Linked DNA regions of Homo sapiens. The protein of the gene in region 1 purifies or fractionates together with the protein of each later gene. This does not show direct contact. Each region holds a gene or a part of one and is shown on either strand. Other genes may lie near its edges. The genes, in order: OSBPL11, VAPB and VAPA.

Region 1 (7,112 bases):
AATGTTCTGTTTAATTTTCTAATGTTATTAATATTTTGCTGATTCATATATCTAAAGAGTTAGCTTTCTGAAAAAAAAAAAAACAAAACTATAAGGATATTGACATGGTTTATTTGGTAGTAGCATAAAGTTAGTTTCAAAAGAGGCAGAAATTCAAGTAAGTAAACTGCTGGCTTATTTTTATTATATAAAACAGCTGTCTCCAGGTTACAAAGAACCAACTTGAAAACATCCTATTCTTTGGAACAGCTGGTTGCAATGTCCCTCCCTCATTCTTCCCCTTTTCCATGTATCCCAAGAAATAGCCACTATCGAAGGCAACCAGCTGGTGTGGAACAACTGTGCCATCTGGTGGTCAGCATAAAAAGTGCTCTGTGACTGAACATCTGATTCACACTTTCTTTTCTTCTACTGTCTTATAATTGAGTTACTACACAGTATCTCTAACTCTCATGCTTTATTCCTATCTAAAATGTGTGAATTTTCAGGGCCTGGTGTAGTGCCTCATGCCTGTAATCTCAACACTTTGGGAGGCCAAGGTGGGACAATTCCTTGAGTCCAGGAGTTTGAGACCAGCCTGGGCAACATAGGGAGACCCACCCCATCTCTAAAAACAGTAAATAAAATAAAATGTGCAAATTTTTATAGAATATTTTTAATGTGTGTCTGTTAATATTAATAAAATCTAGCTACTGAAGTGGGAACATACCACATATCTGATTATATTATACTATTTTGTGTTCTATAAAATAGAAGTGATGGTCCAAAACAGACTAATACACTAAAAAATAAGCTATGATAAAGTTAATTTCTTCTTCAGTCCTCCAAAAACTTCACTGCTCAAGAAACTGGGTATATTTCTAATCTTTTAAACTTGTTAACATTTAATTGGGATTAGTAGTGGAAGCTGATAGTCTATAAAAATAACTGATTAAACTGTGCTAAGTGGCTTTATTATATTGTGTTTAGTTTGATACTCATTTTCTCTTAAATATCTTAAAAATAACTGCTTCAATTCTTTAATCTCCATTACTATAACATACATATTTCTTTTTTTTTTTTTTGAGATGGAGTCTCGCTCTGTCACCCAGGCTGGAGAGCAGTGGTGCAATCTTGGCTCACTACAACCTCCGCCTGCTGTGTTCAAGTGATTCTCCTGCCTCAGCCTCCCGAGTAGCTGGGAGTACAGGTGCGTGTGTGCCACCATGCCTGGCTACTTTTTCTATTTGTAGTAGAGACGGGGTTTCATCATGTTGGTCAGGCTGGTCTCGAACTCCTGACCTCGTGATCCGCCTGCCTCGGCTTCCCAAAGTGCTGGGATTATAGGCGTGAGCCACCGTGCCCGGCAATATACTTATTTCTCAACCTTTCTTTATCAGACTTAAGATAGATAAAAGTTTTTAAAATTAAGCTACCTTTTAAACAGTTTCAAATCCTTTCAACTCAAAACAATTACTCAATACCTACTAAAGCACAGCACTCTGAAAAACCATTGAAAAGCATAAGAAAATCAAAAAGGCAATAACTAATAACTCTCCATCTCAAATCTATAATCTAATCTAAGAGAAATATATCTCCTTGAAGAAAAAGGCAGTAACATGGGTTCCTGCTACTGGAAAAGACACACAATGGGACTACATTTGCAGCTGCCATACAAATAAAAAAGGCATTAAACAAATACAGAGGATTCAGTAGTGAGTGAGAAGGCTGAAATGACTAGATTTGATGACTGATTAGATGTGAAGTGAGACAGAAAGAATGAAAGTGAGAGAGAAAGGACAAGAGCAACACTCAGATTTCCAGCTGGAACAACTGGGTGGATAACTAATGCCTTCACTGAGATAGGGATCGCAGAGAAATTTTGGATTTGTTCCAACTTAAGATGTTAAATTTAATGAACCTGCAGGACTATACAGGGAGATATCCAGTAAGGCAGCATGATTAGGGCTTGGTAGTCATCAGCATATAAGCATATAACTGGTATTTGAAGTTACAGCAGTAAATAAGGTCACTCAGGAAGTATTACGAAATGGCAAGAGATGGGCAGGGTCTAAGAGAGATCTCTAAGGAAAAGTTTTAAGGGCAAGGGGAATACAGAGAAGAAATCAGGAACAACTGAGTAGTGGGAAGAAAACTAGGAGTATGGAAAGACAGAAACCAGAGAAAGTGTTTCAAGATAAGTCTGTGGTCAAGAATATTCAGTGGGCAGGTGCCTTCACTCACACCTGTAATCCCAGCACTTTGGGAGGATCACTTGAGCCAGGAGTTTGAGACCAGCCTGGGCATCACAGTGAGATCCTGTCTCTACAAAAAAAATTAAAAATTAGCCAGGCAGGGTGGCACACACCTGTAATCCCAGCTACTCAGGACACTGAGATGGGAGGATTGCTTGAGCCCAGGAAGTGGAGGCTGCAGGGAGCTGCAATCGTGCCATTGCACTCCAGCCTGGGAAACAGAGCAAGACTCTGTCTCAGGCCAGGCACAGTGGCTCATGCCTATAATCCCAGCACTTTGGGAGGCTGAGGTGGGTGGATCACTTGAGGTCAGGAGTTCAAAACCAGCCTAGCCAACATGGTAAAACCCTATCTCTACTAAAAATACAAAAATTAGCTGGGCGTGGTGGTGCATGCCTGTAGTCCCAGCTACTTGGGAGGCTGAGGCAGGAGAATTGCTTGAAACTGGGAGGCGGAGGTTTCACTGAGCCAAGATCCTGCCACTGTACTCCAGGCTGGGCGTCAGAGTAAGACCCTGTCTCAAAAAAAAAAAAAAAAAAAAAGAGAAGTTCAGTGCTACTGATAAAGTAAGATATGACAAAGACTGAGAAGACTCATTAGACTTAAAACCCAGAGATAACAGTTTAATGGAATGATGAGGGCAGTCAGCTGGAAGTAACATCAGAGGTTGACGATAATGTCAAGAGGTTCTCCAGCTTGTAGACAACTGAGCTATGGGATTTCTCAGGCTCCACAGTCATATGAGCCAATTCCTCATAATCTCTCTCTATATATATCTACCTATTGGTTCTATTTTCCTGGAAAAGCCAAATAGCGATACCTTAAGGTATTTAACTACAGGCAGGAATCCAAGTTGTAGTCAGTAAATATGAGGTACCAGGCAAGTCACATGTCAAAATCCATACTTTCAACTAGGCAAAAAGTATCCTCCCAAAAGGCTTAGCACTTTGGTCCATTCTCTGGATAAGAAATAGCATGAAGCGGGGAGTGGCTTGCTTAGCTGAGGAAAAGGCTAATGACATTAAGAGATATTCCTCGCAACAGCTAGTGTGTAGCCTGGGATATAATGTTTATTTGCTGAATGAATTAAGCAATGGGAAGAAAGAAACAGAATTTTTCTATGAAGCCATGAGGCAATTCTCAGTAACCTGCCCACCTCCTCCCCAAAAAATTCAACTCGCAGACTGTATACTCAAAATCGCAAACAAAATAAAGTCTAACTGTATTTTAATCTATGACAAAAAGTATAAAGTCAAGAGAGGGGTCCTCCCTCCTGCCAAGAGTCTTAAAAATGTTAGCACTCTTTGGCCCTAGAATTTCACTTTTAGGTATCCCATCTATGACAAATGATTAGAAATGTAGACAAAGCCGGGTGCGGTGGCTCACGCCTGTAATCCCAGTACTTTAAGAGGCCTAGGCAGGCAGATCGCCTGAGGTCAGGAGTTCGAAATCAGCCTGGCCAACATGGTGGAACCCCGTCTCTACCAAAAATATAAGAATTAGCCGGGTGGCACCTGCCTGTACCCAGCTACTCGGGAGACTGAGGCACAAGAATCGCTTGAACCCAGGAGGCAGAGGTTGTGGTGAGCCAAGATTGCACCATTGTGCTCTAGCCTGGGCAACAAGAGTGAAACTCCATCTCAAAAAAAAAAAAAAAAAACAAAACAGAAAAGATATGTAGTGCAAAAATGTAAGGAAACTAAGAAATCACAGCACATTATTAATAAACCAACTCTTGCTCCTCAAGACTTGGTATATTTTTAACTAGATTTTGGAATAATATTTTATAGTTTCCAGTTACATGCCTACAATTATCTTTCTCTTGTTTTTACCAGCATCTATAGCAGATGTCAGATACAGAAAACAAAAACTAGAGTGTAGAAATATGTATCAATTTTCCTTTAACCCCTGCAGAGGAAAAAAAAAAAAAAAGCAGACATTTATGACTTTTTCTTCAAATCAACTCAGAAGAAGAGGTAAAACCTCTAAGACCATGAACATTCATTTATATTTAGGCCAATCTCATTTTCCCATCCGCGAACAGGCACTTTTCCTTATAATAGTATTGACAGTGGAAGAAACCACAAAATTATTGTGGTCTGACCACAAAAATTATTTCTATACTACACATTTGCAGACTTTTACACATTTACTGAAAAGTATAGCTGTTTGCTAATGAGGAAAATAGATTTATCTGTTAATATGATTAGCCAGTGAGGAGCTCAAAATTTTAAAAAAAAGCAGGCCATCAAACACCCTGGTTTGTCTTTCAGTTCCTCTTTTGAATAGTTCTCTTCTGCCCATTTTAATAAGCAGGTGGCATATTTGCAGATTTGTGAATTTCTCTACAAGCTGACATGAAGAATACAAAAATAATGAAAACATGCATATTTTATAAAGTGTGAATATTCACTATGAAAAAGGAAGGAAAGACCCAGAACTGGGAAATCTATCTTCTCTGTAAATGGTAAAGAAAGCTCACATCATATGAATATAAATTACTCTGGAAACAAGAAAATACAAGGCTAATCTAATAAATTAAGTTCTTAAGTTTAATTTTTCAAAAGGGCCAGGCACGGTGGCTCACGCCTGTAATCCTAGTACTTCAGGAGGCCGAAGTGGGTGGATCACTTGAGGTCAGGAGTTTGAGACCAGCCTGGCCAACATGGTGAAACCTCATCTCTACTAAAAATACAAAAATCAGCCGGGTGTGGTGGCAAGTGCCTGTGGTCCCAGCTACTTGGGAAGCTGAGGCAGGAGAATCGCTTGGACTTGAACCTGGGAGGCAGAGGTTGCAGTGAGCTAAGATCTGCCACCGCACTCCAGCCTGCACAAGAGGACCAGACTCTGTCTCAAAAAAAAAATTTTTTTTTTCAAAAGGTCATCATGAGATTGTTTTGTAAATGCCACTGATGCCCTTCCTTTTCCTGATTATTTTGATGATCCTCCTAAAATAAGCCTTAGAATTCATTCTTTCGTTGTTTTGGGTGTGCACATTAATTTGGCATTAATAAAAGAGTGCTTCAGACATAGTAGAGACTCAAAAATATTTGCTACATAAGTTAGAACATGAGTAAACCATAAAACCAACCATGTACCAAACTAGTTATTATCAATAATTATTCATTCCTTTTAGAGAGTTTATCTACTTTTAATACCTCTATGTAAATATCTATCTAGAAATAAAAGTTCTCCCACTTACTAGCTATGTAACCTTAGCTACATGCAATATATAACTTCATGTACTATATTGCCTAAGTCTATATTGTCATTTAGACTTAGGTTTTCTTCAACTGCAAAACAGGAATAATAATGCTGTATCTTCCTCCAGAGTTGGGAGGATTAAATGTGATAACAGATGTGAAAACATTCTGGATAATGTAAAGACAATTATCTACATTTCCAATACTCCATATCTCTGAGGACTGGCTAGATAAGACACTTAAACATTCTGGCAACTTTAGCTGGACATACCTAAAACCAGATACATAATTTGACTCCCCAAGTCCGTTTTCCCCTCTAGTCTTTACAATCTTGAGTCTATTATATTAACTGCCTAGGCATTTTCTGGCATAAATCCCAATAATCCCCACCTGCTGGTATTCTCACACCCTTGTGTGGGACTTGTTTCTGAAGAACAGTGAAAAGTGATGTGAATTCACCTCAGTGCTTAGGTTACAAAAGACTGTTAACTTCTCTCCAGGTAGCACTCTCTAGTCCTCTTACCTCCTCATTCTCAAGAAACAAGCTGCCAAGTTGTAAGATGCTCTGTGAAGAAGCCCATGTGGCCAGTGAACAAAGGAGGTCTCTGGCCATCAGTTCATGAGGAACTGAGTTTTTTGTCCAATGGGCCAAAAGGAACTGAATTGCACCAAGAGTCTCATGAATCAGCTAGGAAATGAATCCTTCCCAGTTCAGTCTTAAGAAAGACTCAGAGCCAGAAGACCCAGCTAAGCTGCACTGAGATTCCTGACCCAAAGACACTATGAAATAATAAATGCTGCTAATATATTAAATTTGGGGGTAATTTGTAATGCAGTAGTAGATACACTATCTCACACTGTATTTCAAAATAAATTCCAGATAGATTAAAAAGTTAAATATGAGCCTGGGCAACATCGCAAGATCCTGCCTCTAGAAAAAAATTTTAAAATTAGCTGGGCATGGTGGTGTACACCTGTAGTCCCAGCTATTCCAGAAGCTGAATAGGAGGATCACTTGAGCCTAGCAGTTCAAGGCTGCAGTGAGCTATGATGGAGACACCACACTCAACCCTGGGAGACAGAGAGAGACCTTGTCTCAAAAAAAAAAGTTAAATTGTAAAACTACCAAATTATTTTAAAACTTCATGAAAACAACTATTTATTTAACTATTTTTGAGACAGGGTCTTGCTCTGTCACCCAGGCTTGAGTGCAGTGGCACAATCACAGCTCACTGGAGCCTAGAACTCAAGCAATCCTTCCACCTCAGCCTCCTGAGTAGGCATGCCACCATGCCTGGCTAATTTTTTAATTTTTTGTAGAGATGGGGTCTCTCTATGTTGCCCAGGCTAGTCTCAAACTGCTGGGCTCAAGTAATGCTCCCACCTCAGCGCCCCAAAGTGCTAAGGATCAACACTTTGGGTGAGCTACAGTGCCAGCCAAAACCAAGTACTTATAAAAGTTACTTTTTATAATTAGAAATGGATGGAAAAGAGGAATAAGAGGTCTGACTTAAAAGTTTTCTGTGTGTCAAAAAAAATGAAATTAAATCTGAGGACTAGTGAAATATTTGCAGAAAGTATAGCAAAGAATTTATACAAAATTAAAATATATTGCATGTCATCACATGTTTATTAAATAAAGAACTAATATAAATTTCTCTGGAATTATAGTCAA
Region 2 (7,112 bases), on another chromosome or scaffold:
ATGGGTTGGAGAGAAGCTACAACAGTTCCTTAAATGTTCTTAAACATCTTAGATTATTCTATTTAATTCCTGAAGAGATCATTTGGATATGTTTTCTTGAGCAAAACAGGCAGATGGTGTTGCTACCCAGTTTCCCAATTCTGTAAGGCCTGTAGCAGACATTTACGGTAGGCTTGCAGTAGTGAAAGATCCATGGACTAGGAATCAGAAGACTGGGTCCTCGGCCTTATTCCCAGCTCTGTCATGCGTGATTTTGTGGCTCTTAGGTTGGTGACCTGCAAAATGGAGATGTTGGTCATCCTTGCTTACTTCACCAGGGGCGTCCATCCTAAGACATAAGAGAATGCCGGTAAATTGCTTTACAACCAAAGTACAAGTATTAGCATAATAAATGGCACTGACAACCAAGCTCTGACCCTCCTAATGAAATATTTTCTTTCTCAGTGATGTTACAGCCTTTCGATTATGATCCCAATGAGAAAAGTAAACACAAGTTTATGGTTCAGTCTATGTTTGCTCCAACTGACACTTCAGATATGGAAGCAGTAGTAAGTACTGAATGCTTCTTATTTTTTTCAGTAACAATAATTTAAAAAACCAATTAGATATGGAATTGTGGGTGCATGCATTTCAAAATATGTCAAAATTATTTAAAAGGGAATAGTTTTTTTTCAAGGAGGTTTGTACTTTATCTACCTTTATGGTTTTTCTAAAACTTTGAGGAATAATTTTAACATTTTTTGTGACTTTCTAGAAGGCTGTTCTTTTCTGACTTTCCTGAGCTCAGTGTGCTTCAGCAGCTCCTTGCACTGGTGGATGGTGTCTTGCATGGTTAGGGATTGCCTTCTTTCGCCTCTCCTTTCTGCCCCGACAGAAAAGGATACTTTTCATTGTCCCGCCTTTTTCTTACTTGTCTTCTCATCCCCCACAAACTCAAGAGCCATGTGAGAGTGTCAGTGCTGAATGTCCTCACCCATTTAGACATACATGTTTGTGGCTTTGTTCTAGTAAATATGCTTATTTATTTTCCCCCCTGCTTAAATCTATGTTTAACTTTTCTCTAATTTTGATAAAATTAAGATGACTTCATTTTTATAAAAGAAATAAGTGATGTTAGTGATGGTTTTGGAAAAAAAAAAAAGAGTATAATGGACATTCCCTCCAAAACGAGCTTTTTATACATTTGAATAAGTCCATTGGCATTCTGGGGCTGGGAGTTGAATTGAAATCTACAATACAACCCACAGCCCCAGCAGGGACAGATGCGCTTGTCCTTACAGTTCAGGAAAGCAGGACAGGGTTGCCTCATACCACTTGCATTGCTCTCCAGTTTTGGCCCGCCCAAAGGGGAGCCCCGAGTCATCCACGGCAGGTCTGCCCACCTGAGTCCGCTGTTCATCACACCATACTGCAGTTCTCCTCTGTCTGAGTTTCATACCAAGGGCAACTCAGGCCAAGACCACCCCATGCCCTATGTCACCACATAGCCTTTTGTTTAAGTTCTGGAGAAGCATCTCCGCTGATGTTTCACTTGTAGGCAGAAAATGAAGGAGGAGGCCAGATATTTTTGACTTTTAGAGAGATCAGTGATAATAGGCTGTCTTCTTTTCATAAGAACAATTCTTATGAAAACTTTCTCTGATTTTCTGCAACATGATGTGTTACTTCATGTTAATTTGTGTGATCAAAGAAACATGGCAGATAGAAAATAATGGAAGATCCAAGGGTGTGTTCTGTTTGGCTTCTGCTGCATGGCATAGTGAAAAGAGCATGGGCTTGGGTGTTTTCGAGCTGAGTTCTTCCTTTTACTGACGTTGTGGCTGGGAGCAGGTTTTATTAACTCTGTTGAGGTTTTGATCATTTGTAAAATAGGGATAAAAATGCAGCTCACACAGTGGTGAGTATGAAGTGTGCCTGTGTAAGTGCCTGGTGGGTCCAGTGTCTGACACTTGCTTATCAGAGTGTGTAATAGGCCAGTCACTGCATATCTAGTAAAGGGTCATTTTAGTTCCTTGTATGATGATATAAGTTTAAATTTTTTTTATATAAAATGTACATTGTGGGAAATTTTGGAAATACACAAATGAAAAAAATTTAAAGTGACCCATAGTTCTTTTCTACTAGGCCTAACCATCATTAATGAGAAATGAGAGCTTTGTGTTTTTCTTCCTTTTTTTTTTTTTTTTTTTTTTTGGAGACATGATTTTACTGTGTCACCTAGGCTGGAATGCAGTGGAGTGATCTCAGCTCGCTGCAGCCTCCACCTCCTGGGCTCAAGTGATCCTCCCACCTCAGCCTCCCAAGTAGCTGGGACCACAGGAGCGCACCACCATGCCTGGCTAATTTTTTTGTAGAGACAGGTTTTCTCCATGTTGCCCAAGCTGGTCTCAAACTCCTGGACTCAAGCGATCTGCCCACCTCAGCCTCCCAAAGTGGTAGGATTACAGGCATGAGCCACTGCCCCAGCCTGCTTTTTCTTTATTTTAAAATGTTTTTCTTTTTATTGTGATATACAGAAAGTTGAAAAAATAGCATGGTGACCACTCATATAACTTTTACCTAGATTTACATTTGTTAACATGTTGTGACATTTGCTTCCTTTCTGTCACAAACTTTCTTATTTGCTTGAGATGCAAATTTATGACACTTCACCCCTAAATGCTTCAGAGCAAGGACAGTCTCTTATATAGTCATGATACTATTAATCATAGCTGAAAAAAGTAACTTCAATTCAGTATTATTATGTGATAAATTCATATTCATTATTTCCTAGTTGTTCCAAAAGTGACCTTTAGTAGAGGACACCCAAACCTTTTTGTTTTTCAAACTTTGAACTTTTTTTTTTTTTTTTTTTTTTTTTGAGACAAAGTCTTGCTTTGTCACCAAGGCTGAAGTGCAGTGGTGCAGTCATGGCTTGACCTCCACCTCAGCTGTTCGAGTAACTAAAACTACAGGCATGCCACCATGCCGGCTATTTTTTTATTTTTTTATAGAGTTGGGGTCTCACTATGTTGCCCAGGCTGGTCTTGAACTTCTGGGCTCAAGTGATCCTCCTGCCTCTGCCTCTCGAAGTGCTGGGATTACAGGTGTGAGCCACTGCACCCTGCCCAAACTTTGAACTTCTTTTTTTTTTTAAGAGTCCAGGCCAGTTGACTTACAGAATGTCCTGTATTCTGGATTTATTTGATTATTTCCTCATGATTAAATTCAAGTTAAATGTGTTTTGGCAAGAATATTCCATAGTTGGTATTTCATACCAGGTTGTTCCGCTGTTGGTGATGCTGTTTGATCACTTGGTTAAGATGGTGACTGCCAGCTCTCTCCACTGTCATAGCACAAAGCACATTTGCCCCTGTGGTTAATAGGTAATCTGTGATACTCTGAGTCATCTGATACTTTGAGACCATGTGAATATCCTGCTCGCCAGCAGTCTTTCACCTGGTGCTTTTAGCATTCAGTGATGATCCTTGCTTGATATTTTTTTTGACTTATGTGGTAGGCACACGTGTACAGGTGTGTGTGTGCAGAGGAGCAGACTTCAGTATTCTTTGCGATTTTTTCACTTAACATTCTGGACATTTTCTCCATCTAACTGAGTGCTCTTCAGCATCATTTGAGTGGCAGCATGCTGTTCCGTTTAGTGGATCTGCCATAATTTTTGTGGCAGTCCCCTAGGGTCAGATGTATAGATTGCTTCCCACTTTTGGTTCTTGGTACCTGTGTTACAGTAGCTGCCTCTTGCATGGTTTTGGGAAGGGTTGAGGGCATGGAGGGTGGGGGTGCCTTCTTTTTCTATATCATAACCTTGCTGCTATCCTGGTCTGTAATCCTAGAATACCCTGGAATTCCCATCTTCTGCTGCCAAAAGGAGAAGTAATCAGGAGCGTATCCTCTTAGGACATGGGATTTAGCTAGGAAGGTGCTCTCACTACAGCCTGGAGGGATGGAGATGGGTCTTGGGGTAGACACAGCCCACACACTGCCACAGTGACAGAGGAGGGATTTGGTAATGAATGTGTTCCGTTGGTAGTTGGCAGAGTGGTTCTGAAACTAGTCCCAGATAGTATGCGCTTATACTTTCTAGATATGCCTTTAAAATAAGTTTCATTTTCTCATTTTAATTTAATTTATTATTTTTGAGACAGAGTCTCTCAGTGTCCCCCAGCCTGGAGTACAGTGGCATGATCATGGCTCACTGCAGCCTCCACCTCCTGGGCCCAAGTGATCCTCCCTCCTCAGCCTCCTGAGTAGCTGGGACCACAGGCATGTGCCTCCATGCTTAGCTAATTTTTTAATTTTTTTGTAGAGATGACGTCTCCTTACGTTGTGCAGACTGGTCTCAAACTGCTGGGCTCAACCAGTCCCTCCACCTCAGCCTCCCAAAGTGCTGGGATTACAGGCATAAGCCACCATGCCCAGCTGAAAACAAGTTTTATTTTCATAAGGAGAGCCAAGGTTACCTGGTCATCCAGACATTGTTTAGAGGATTCCTTTTTGTTCAGTGGTGGGCCTGTCCCACAGAGTAGCAACATGGGGAGCATTGGTTGACTTTGAGGAGTCAGGCAGCAAGACTTCAGGGTTTATGAAGTGTAATATTTTGAGAAAGTGAGTGTATTTAATCTTGTCATGTTACAAATATTGAAATCTCAGCAGACTTCAGTTCTTTATTTGATATACATCAGGGCTTTCTCATTAAGAGTATTTTTCTGAAATTGTCAGTTATAGGAAGAAAGTTATTCTTCCAGCAGGTTTATAATATCTTGATTATTAAATTTAAATTGTTTTAGTGGAAGGAGGCAAAACCGGAAGACCTTATGGATTCAAAACTTAGATGTGTGTTTGAATTGCCAGCAGAGAATGATAAACCAGTAAGTATATTTATAGTTAACAATAATTGAATGTTGTAAGCTGATACTTATTTGCATACCATTTCCTGCAAAACCAAGATTTAAGTTGGCAAATTATTTTCCTTTATCTGATGTCTGAAGAAAAAAAATAAGCTGAAGTCAGCAAATAAGTGGGCCTTTATGAAATCAGCCTTTGAAAAACTCACGGAAAGACAACTGATTGACAGTGTTTCCCCTTGAAAAGTGCAGCCCGATGGCCATTGAGATGTCATAAATCCTGAAGAGCTTCTGTGGCCTGGCAAAGGTATAGGTTGCTGTTAAACAGTGGGTGAGAGTGAAAGAGGGAACAATTTGCCCTTTATCATGGTGGTTGATGGACGTGTGGGAAGCTTTCAAGTTCTCTTGTTTTACAAAGTGCCCTGTCAGCCTCCCTACCCCTTTTACCCTATCTACCTCTTCAATCAAAGGCTGCTTTTAGATGAGGATTTCTCAGCCTCAACACTGTTGATATTTGGGGCAAATCCTTGGTGGTGGTGGAGGTTGCCCTGTGTACTGTAGGGTGTTTTATTAATAGCAGCATCCCTGGCTTCTGCCCTCTTGATACTGGTAGTACTTCCCAGTTGTGACAACTAAAAATGTCTCCAGATATTGCCACATGTGTCCTGGAGGGCAATATCAACCCCCATTGAGAGTGATCCCATTCCGGTGTTGCCTGTGGGGAGAAGGAAGGAGCCCCATCCTCTAGGCTGTCCACTGTGAGCGCTTTACCTTTCATGATCCTCACTTGTGACCAGTTGAAGAAAGGAGACTGTATCTGAAATGCTAATTTGGACTTCCCTTCAACCTAGTCGAAAACATTTTAATTTTTATAAAAACACCAAAACTGTGAAAGCATGCAGCATGTGAAACTATCCTAGCCATTAATAGCTGGAGTTGGGAAACAGAAGTACCCTGAAATGTTGTGTTAACAGTATCTATGTTGGTCTGCGCGAGTGCTGTTGATTTGTGTCAAAACTACCTGAGATTTTATTTCTGCTGAATCATTTACCACTATCATTACCCTGTTTCTTTAAGTGGATAGTGGTCATTTTTTCCCTCTTCCCAGTGTACATCCTGTCACAGGAAGGTCAGTTTGGAAGCTGTGAAAGCAGTATTCTGGCCTCAGCTCTGTGATAGGTTGACTTGGTAGCCTGGGGCCTTGCTTCACAGGGCCTACTCTTCTCATCTGGAAAATGATGGGTAGAGCTAGATTCCAGGCCAATGATCGTCAGTTACTCTTTCCCTGACAAGCTGCGTGCTTCCATGCCCTCCCTCCACTGACTGGCTCTCATCCCCTGTAAATCTCAAGAGGGGATCATAGCTGAATCTTGGCAGGGGAAATAAGGGGAGTATGTAACTTCCCAAGATTGAAACATTGCAGACACTGAGTTTGTTTCACCTTCATCCCAGCTTCCAAATGCTAAGTTGGTAAAGTAATTCGCCCTCTGTCTAATGCTCTCCCAAGCCTCCTAACCCCACTAAGGCAATCCTAGGGATGTTCACATCTTTGTGGTGACAGTAATTTGTGGCTAATAATTCCTGAGCTTGCACAATTACAGTATGCTGATTTTTCCGTGGCAGGAATTTGATAGTGCAATATACACAGCCCTTTTTCTCTTTCTTTGAAGTATTAGTCTCAGCCGAACTTCATTATTTGCCCTTATCCATAATTTCTAGGGCCCTGTTGCTTTAGATTATTAAGATATCAGATAAAGTAATCCATTTTTAAAATAAATGTGACATTTTACAGTGTGGATGAAATGCTACCACGTTTGGTGTTTGCTGAGAACTACTTTACTTTGCATAAAAAAGTCCATTATTACATGGTCGGTGACACTTAGGCTTTCATTTGTTTTTGAACAGCATGATGTAGAAATAAATAAAATTATATCCACAACTGCATCAAAGACAGAAACACCAATAGTGTCTAAGTCTCTGAGTTCTTCTTTGGATGACACCGAAGTTAAGAAGGTTATGGAAGAATGTAAGAGGCTGCAAGGTGAAGTTCAGAGGCTACGGGAGGAGAACAAGCAGTTCAAGGTAATAGTTTATTTTCTGGTAATCTACAGAAAACAAGGGCGTTTTCACTAGCTTCTTGGGTGGGGAAGTTGATGAGCCAGTGAATATATAGATTTCTTTTTGCTTTTGGTATTTGGCTATTTTTTTCTCCCCAGGGAGAAATTTCCATGGCTTTCATGAGAGTCTCAAAAGGGTCCTTGGATCTGC
Region 3 (7,112 bases), on another chromosome or scaffold:
GAGCACATCTTTATCAAAGAACAGAACTATGGAAGTCATGGCAGATGAAGTAAAAGTAACCAACAACATCCTTTAAAAGATCCATGGCGTGTAGGTGTGAAATAAAGATATTCTTTCCGCTACCCAGACAAGTGCTTGGAAGCAGACGGGTACCCCTCGAGGGGGTACTATGAAACATCAAGCATGAAGAGACACAAAAATTCACTTTAAAAAGCATTTCAGCAAAGGAGTTCACAGATCGACTTAAAACACAGTGCCTTTAATTTAGAGTGTAGTTCCTACATACACCTAACAAAAGGAATAATCAAATAACTCCCATCATTTAGCTTATTTTAGTTACATACATTTTTGTATCATCTACTTTGCTGCAAAGAGCTTCAAACAAAGCCTAGAGAGCAACGTATAGGTATTTAGGTCTTGAAACAAGTAATTACTTGTCAAAGACAAATTATTCATAAATTTCAGACATATTCAAATCAGTCCTCCTTCGCCATCCATTTAATTCAATCAAATACATGAATGACTACCACATGCATGTATGGTGAATGCAGAGATAAATGAAGCACTGCCCTTGCCACCAAGGCAATTACTGCCCACTAGAGGGAGAAAGGCCTCTAACAAGTAAGAGCAGTAGAAGGCGATCAGCATAGTGGAGGCACAAAGCAGACATGACAAATCGATTTTTTTCTTCTTTTGGAGAGGGTCCCAGCAAAGGCTATATGCTGTAGTAGCAAAACGTCAATGTGTGTATGTGCTGTGTCGGGAGGGGCAGGGTTCTGGGCCTTTCCAGTCACAGTGAAGAGCTTACACTAAAGCAAAGAGGGGTGATAAACAGATGCTTCTCCAGCATACTCCAGCCCAATGCTGCCCCACGCAAATACAATGTGAGCTTCAAATGTGAGCCCCGTATGTAAAGTTAAATTTTCCAACAGTACATTTAAAAAGTAAAAAGAAATGGGTAAAATTCATTTTAATAATATATTTGATTCAACCCAATATACCCAAACTACTATTTCAGTATGTAACCATTAAAAAAAAAAGATTTTACCTTTTTCTGTACTAACTCTTCAACATCAGTATTTTACACTCAACAGCACAGCTCAATTTGAACAAATCCCATTTCAGTGCTCAACAGCCCTAGGTGACTAATGGCTATGATGTGGGACAACACAATCCTAGGCAGTTCAGTATGACTAGGGCACAAAATGGGAAGGACATGAGAAACAAGAGCAGAAGCTGGCAATACTGCAGGCCAGATCACAAATAATTAGAATGTGTGCTAAAGTAAGGAACTTGCAGCAATGAGAAACCACGGGAAGACTGTTAAAAGAGGAGTAGGGTGGGGAGCAAAGGCACTGGGGCAAAGAAGAAAGAACTGACCAAGCAAAAATTTAAAAGCTAATTGCTAAAATGGCCTAATAACACTCACATGTCCTATACCTTCATTTCAATCAATTTATTTTCAACCAACAGAACTTACTCTCAGGTGCCGATTTTCTTCTGATAGCTTCATCATTTCTCCCTGAAGTCTTTTACACTCTTCCATTAGTTTCCTTGTTTCGGTATCATTAAGTGAAACACTGTGTGGTTTTGGCATAGGTCCATCTTGCTTAGATGCATTCAGTGGAACAGCTTTGCTAGGTTCCATATCATTCTGCATTACAAAGATATTGGGAATTTTTTAACTAACCAAATCTCCTTACAGGTTTTAAACAAATAACAATATAAATTCTACATCTTTGTTCATGAAAAACTCTTTAAAAGGCCTAAATCAGTACATGTCAGCAGTCAGATTAGTCTAAATAACCAGCCCACTCCCTCTATTCCCATAATCCCTGGCACGTACCTCTACCATAGCACTTTATTATGTATCTTAATAATTATTGTTCAAGTTCTTTCCTGTAATACTTCAAAGGCTGAGAGAGCAAGAGCCATCTCTCTTTGTATTTACCCCTAAAACCAGCACTTTGGTCAAGAGTAGTTATTCAATGAAAGTATGCTGAATGACGTCAACAAAATCCATTGAAGGTCATTTTCCGTGCTCTGGTTGTGCAATTCAAATAAGGTTCTGGGGGGTAGGGGGATATTATCGTAATCATTCCAATAAAATCGGAAACTACCTAAGAAAAAACATGCCCAAGAAAAGCTAACTTCTATTAATTTGTCATCTTTAGTAATGCTGTTTGCTTTAATTCACGTGATTCAACATCACAGGAGCACTTAGCATGCTTTGAAGACTATGAGCCCCAAAATCTTAATCCTCACCAACATTGAACCATTTGAAGCTAGTGAAGGCCTGGAGATAAATATCTATGACAGCACCTATGTATTCTTCAGCCCGTTGTCTAAAGTACCCCAACATCCTTCACTCCAACAGCATTTATGTCACCACACATCGTAGCAGTATTAGTGTAACAAGCTTTTTTCATTTTAATTAAATTCACTTACTTTAAAATAATTTTAGGTAAAATCTGCTTTATTCAGCTATAAACTGCTAAAAAAGACATTTACTAAATCAACTTTATGGCATTCCACAATACTCATTTTATAAGATTTATCAGAGGCTGCACACCTACCACACCATCCCAGCTGCCAATTTTATATTAAGTATAAACAGATTGTTCAAAGGGCAAAACTTGTTATTCTTATGAAGGGGATGTGATTTGATTAGTATGCCTAAATCCATGTAAAATCTATTTAAAAATGAAAATTTATAATGAGGTTCTAATGAACAACAGCATGTATGTGACCTGTCGGCAGACTCTTCCATTCTTCTTCAAGCTTCCCAGTTAAGCAACGTTTTAAAGCAGCCTACTTCAATTCTCTGAGTTTTTCTCTTGCTAGCTTTTTTGTTCTTCACCCCCATTTCTCCCACCCCAACCAATCTAATAATAGCCGCCCCTATTATTAAAAAACTGTTTCAGATATATTTTACCCTGCCAATACTTTTTCCTGTTCTTTTCCTTAATAGTAGTTAGAACTCATTTGTGATTTTCAGTGTGGTCAAATTCTATCCTAGCACAAATCCAACTTCTGATAATGAGGTTGGCACACTGACTTACTCTATAAAGGAGGTGGCAATGGCCACCAATATGGCAATAGAAGAACTTTCAGGTTTTGGTTAAAAATTGGGAAAAAGTATCATACTCATACCAGAAAACTGATAAAAACTTAAAGAGGATGAAGCAGGGCACCATGTCTGATGTCTGTAATCCCAACACTTTGGGAGGCCGAGATGGGTGGCCTGCTTGAGCCCAGGAGTTCAAGAACAGCCTGAGCAACAGAGGGAGACCCTGTCTCTACAAAAAACAATTTTAGAAATTAGCCAGGCATGGTGGTGTGCACCTGTAATCTCAGCTACTCATGAGACTGAGGTGGCTTGAGCCCAGGAAGCGGAGGTTGCAATGAGACGAGATCGTGCCACTGCACTCCAGCCCAGGTGAGAGTGAGACCCTATCTCCAAAAGGGGGAAAAAAAGATATACATGGGGTCAACACCAAAGAGAAAAAAAACTAAAAGAATCATCAAGCTCGACAACTGATTATTTTTAAATTCTTTACATTGCATAAAATTTTAAATTACGGAGGGAAGGGAAAAAGTCATTTCTCACAATCTTGTCAAATCAACAAAACTATTATTTATATTACTATTATTAAATGACATGTCATTAAATATTCTATTCTATGCCTTGCCAAAATTAAACATTTCACTTTTGTTAAGCATTTGATGGGCAGCTTTCCATTCTTTCAAATTTTAAATAACATGTCCATAGGAAGACATTCCATAAAAAGATAACTAGATTGGAATTAGATTTAGATTTTTCTAATTCTAATAGAATTAGACTTGGAATTAGATTAGAATTTATCTAAGCAAATAGAATTAGATTTTTTTGTTGTTGAATTTCTCTTAAAAATGTTATACTGCTTTTGTAACAAAAAGGAGAAGAAATGATAACCAATATGTGGAGCATAAACAGAATAGAATGCAAAGAATACAGTGAAGCCGAAACACATTTCAAAAGTGTGCCCAATAAGTTATATCACATACTACCTAGGCCCCTTACAAACCAGTGAACATACATAACAGGTGCAAGAAAATCTAATTTATTTACATATACATATGCTACATATGTATATGTTATGCTATATATGTATATGTAATGGGGGGAAGTGTGATGGGAGGGTGGGCTTTGAGTCATGCATGGAGTGACAATCTGAAGAGCCTGATGGAAAAAATTAAGCAGGTGTAACTTTAAGTATATGCTTCCATCCAGGACCTCTATTAGTGAGGTTTGGCTCCAATAAAACAGCTTGTTTCTTGAGAGTTGCTTCAAACTGGTCCAGAAAGAAAAGACTGGTTGTTCTGAGAACCATGAAACAAGCACACCAGAGAGATTCAACATGCTGTGACTCTTAGTAAATTGATGAATGGTAACCTTACATTTAACACTGCAATTCAGAATAAGCTGGAAGGTCAAGGTGTGTATCAACTAAAACAATAAACCAATCTTGTCCAGTTTCCACTATATTATTTAGCCTATCTGCAGTAATCCTCCATCTGAGTTGTCCAGTCATGTTCTGTATAATGATGTTTTGGTCAACAATGATTCATACATATGATAGTGTTCCCATACAATAATAATGGCACTGAAAAATTCCTATTACCTAGTGAGGTCTTATCACAATACATTATTCACGTTTGTGGTGATGCTGGTGTAAATATACATACTGTACTCCAGTCATATAAAAGTATTGCACATATGATTTATGTACAATACAGAATACTTGGTAATAAATGACTATGTTACAGGTTTATGTATTTACTGTTATGCTTTTTATCATTTATTTTAGAGTGTACTCCTTCTACTTACGAAAACAAAAAGGACACTCTAAGTCAGACTCCAGCAGGTCCTTCAGGAGGTATTCCAGAAGACACTGTTAACATAGGAGATGTCAGCTCCATGAGTGTTACTGTCCCTGAAGACATTACAGTGAGACAGGATGTGGAGGTGGAAGGCAGTGATACTGATGATCCCGCCCCTGTGCAGGCCTAGACTAATGTGTGTGCTATGTCTTAGTCTTAAGAAAAGAAGTTTTTTTAAAAATCTTATTTAAAAAATAGAAAAAGGCAGCGAATAAGGACATTAAAAAGATATTTTTATTTATCTATACACTGTGCTTGTGCTTTATGTCAAAAATTTTAATTTTACAGTTTATGAAGTTACGGACAGCTAAGATTAAAGAAAAAAATTTTAATAAATGTAGCCTAAGTGTACAGTGTTTATAAAGTCTACAGTGTACAGTAATGTCCTAGGCCTTCCCATTCACTCACCACTCATTCACTGACCCACCCAAAACAACTTCCAGTTCTGCAAGATCCATTCACAGTAAGTGCCCTATGCAAGTATACAATTTTATCTCTTATGCCATATTTTTGCTGCGCCTTTTCTGTGTATAGTCACGGGTGTCCAATCTTCTGGCTTCCCTGGGCCTCACTGGAAGAAAAATTGTCTTGGGCCACACATAAAATACACTAACACTAACACTAACTAATGAGCTATTAAAAAAAAAAAATCACACAAAAAAAAACTCATAGTGTTTTAAGAAAGTTTACGAATTTGAGGTGGGCCGGATTCAAAGCCATCATGGGCCACGTGTGGGCCGCAGGCTGCAGGTTGAATAAGCTCAGTGTAGATTGTTTCGATACACAAATACTTACCATTGTAGTACAGCCACAGGCTATACAAGTCTGTAGCCTAGGAGCAAAAGGCAATACCATATATAGGTTTTTGTAAGTACACTCTATGATGTTTATACAACACATCACCTAACAACACATTTCTCAATATATATCCCCATCCTTAACAGATGCATGACTGTACTTCTGTATTCTTTTTTAACCATCAGAATTTCAGTTCTAATATCCCAAGTATTTTTACTGGGGGTTAATTAGAAAAAGAGGGAACTAGGAATTGGAAATACAAGAAAAAGTTTGCAAAGAAGCCTTGGGAAGAACAAAGGAGATAAAAGACATAAACGTGGGCCTACATTCTTACAACTAACAGGAGTGATGGATAAAAACGCACATAAAGGGAGTTAAAAGGCTAAAGTCAAGAGTACTGTCATAAACCGAGAGAGGCAAAATTAAGGTCTTAACCTATGAATTAAGAGACAGGATTTAAGTAACAAAGTTACCTGAAGTTTTTTTTTCCCACTCTAAACAGCCAATTTACTGTTTCTTTAGGATCATGACTCCCAGAAGTAAATAATTCCCAATCACAAAAACAAAAAATTATTAAACATTTAGATAATTTTTTAAAGCCTTAGTATGCATATCATCTGCAAAACCAAATCAAAGTATAAACAATCTGTTAAAACTGTGGGGTTGCCACATGTGGTGGCTCACGCCTATAATCCCAGGACTTTGGGAGGCCAAGGCAGGTGGATCACCTGAGGTCGGAGTTTAATGAGACCAGCCTGGCCAACATGGTGAAACCCCATCTCTACCAAAAAAATACAAAAATTAGCCAGGCATGGTGGCACGTGCCTGTACTCCCAGCTACTCAGGAGGCTGAGGTGGGAGAATCCCTTGAACCGGGGAGGCAGAGGTTGCAGTGAGCTGAAATTGTGCCATGCACTCCAGCCTGGGTGACAGAGCGAGACTCCATCTCAAAAAAAAAAAAAAAAAAAAAAAAAAAAGAGTATATTCCCCAAATCTCAAAGAAAAAAATTACAGCAACTTCATAATGTTCACACTTATACTGTCCTGCTCACTATATAGATTTTAGTTAAGTTCAGAAGTTTTTTAGAACAGAATAGTTTGTATGCATGATTTTTAAGTGCTTTGTAGTTTTATTGTAATTTTAGGCATAGTTCAATTCTATCTACTTCATACAACATACTCACAATACCACTTATCTGCTAGGTATCTACATTAACTTAACCATTGACACTAGTAGACTCCTAAGTCTGTTAACTCCCTATAACAAACCTTCTGTTTCTCCTGTTTCAACACACTGAGTCCCCTGGGGTCATCCTTCGTGTGATAACTGGCAGGTGTTGCAACTGTGTTGTTGATGCTGCTCATTGAAGTGACAGTCGGAGCATTCCCTG

Evidence for each region.
Region 2: the proteins of OSBPL11 (region 1) and VAPB purify together in Homo sapiens (affinity purification with mass spectrometry; 6 studies listed by BioGRID and IntAct, with this or other methods). This does not show direct contact.
Region 3: the proteins of OSBPL11 (region 1) and VAPA purify together in Homo sapiens (co-immunoprecipitation; 5 studies listed by BioGRID and IntAct, with this or other methods). This does not show direct contact.

What each region holds. Positions count from the first base shown.
Region 1 is NC_000003.12:125,585,467-125,592,578, forward strand, and holds part of OSBPL11 (oxysterol-binding protein-related protein 11), read right to left. Parts: intron 1-7,112. UniProt on the Homo sapiens protein: Plays a role in regulating ADIPOQ and FABP4 levels in differentiating adipocytes and is also involved in regulation of adipocyte triglyceride storage. Weakly binds 25-hydroxycholesterol. Interacts with OSBPL9 to function as lipid transfer proteins.
Region 2 is NC_000020.11:58,434,158-58,441,269, forward strand, and holds part of VAPB (vesicle-associated membrane protein-associated protein B/C), read left to right. Parts: intron 1-444; coding exon 445-548; intron 549-4,787; coding exon 4,788-4,868; intron 4,869-4,988; exon of another isoform or gene 4,989-5,151; intron 5,152-6,749; coding exon 6,750-6,926; exon of another isoform or gene 6,927-6,927; intron 6,928-7,112. UniProt on the Homo sapiens protein: Endoplasmic reticulum (ER)-anchored protein that mediates the formation of contact sites between the ER and endosomes via interaction with FFAT motif-containing proteins such as STARD3 or WDR44.
Region 3 is NC_000018.10:9,944,937-9,952,048, reverse strand, and holds part of VAPA (vesicle-associated membrane protein-associated protein A), read right to left. Parts: coding exon of another isoform or gene 6,991-7,112; intron 1,655-6,990; coding exon 1,481-1,654; intron 1-1,480. UniProt on the Homo sapiens protein: Endoplasmic reticulum (ER)-anchored protein that mediates the formation of contact sites between the ER and endosomes via interaction with FFAT motif-containing proteins such as STARD3 or WDR44.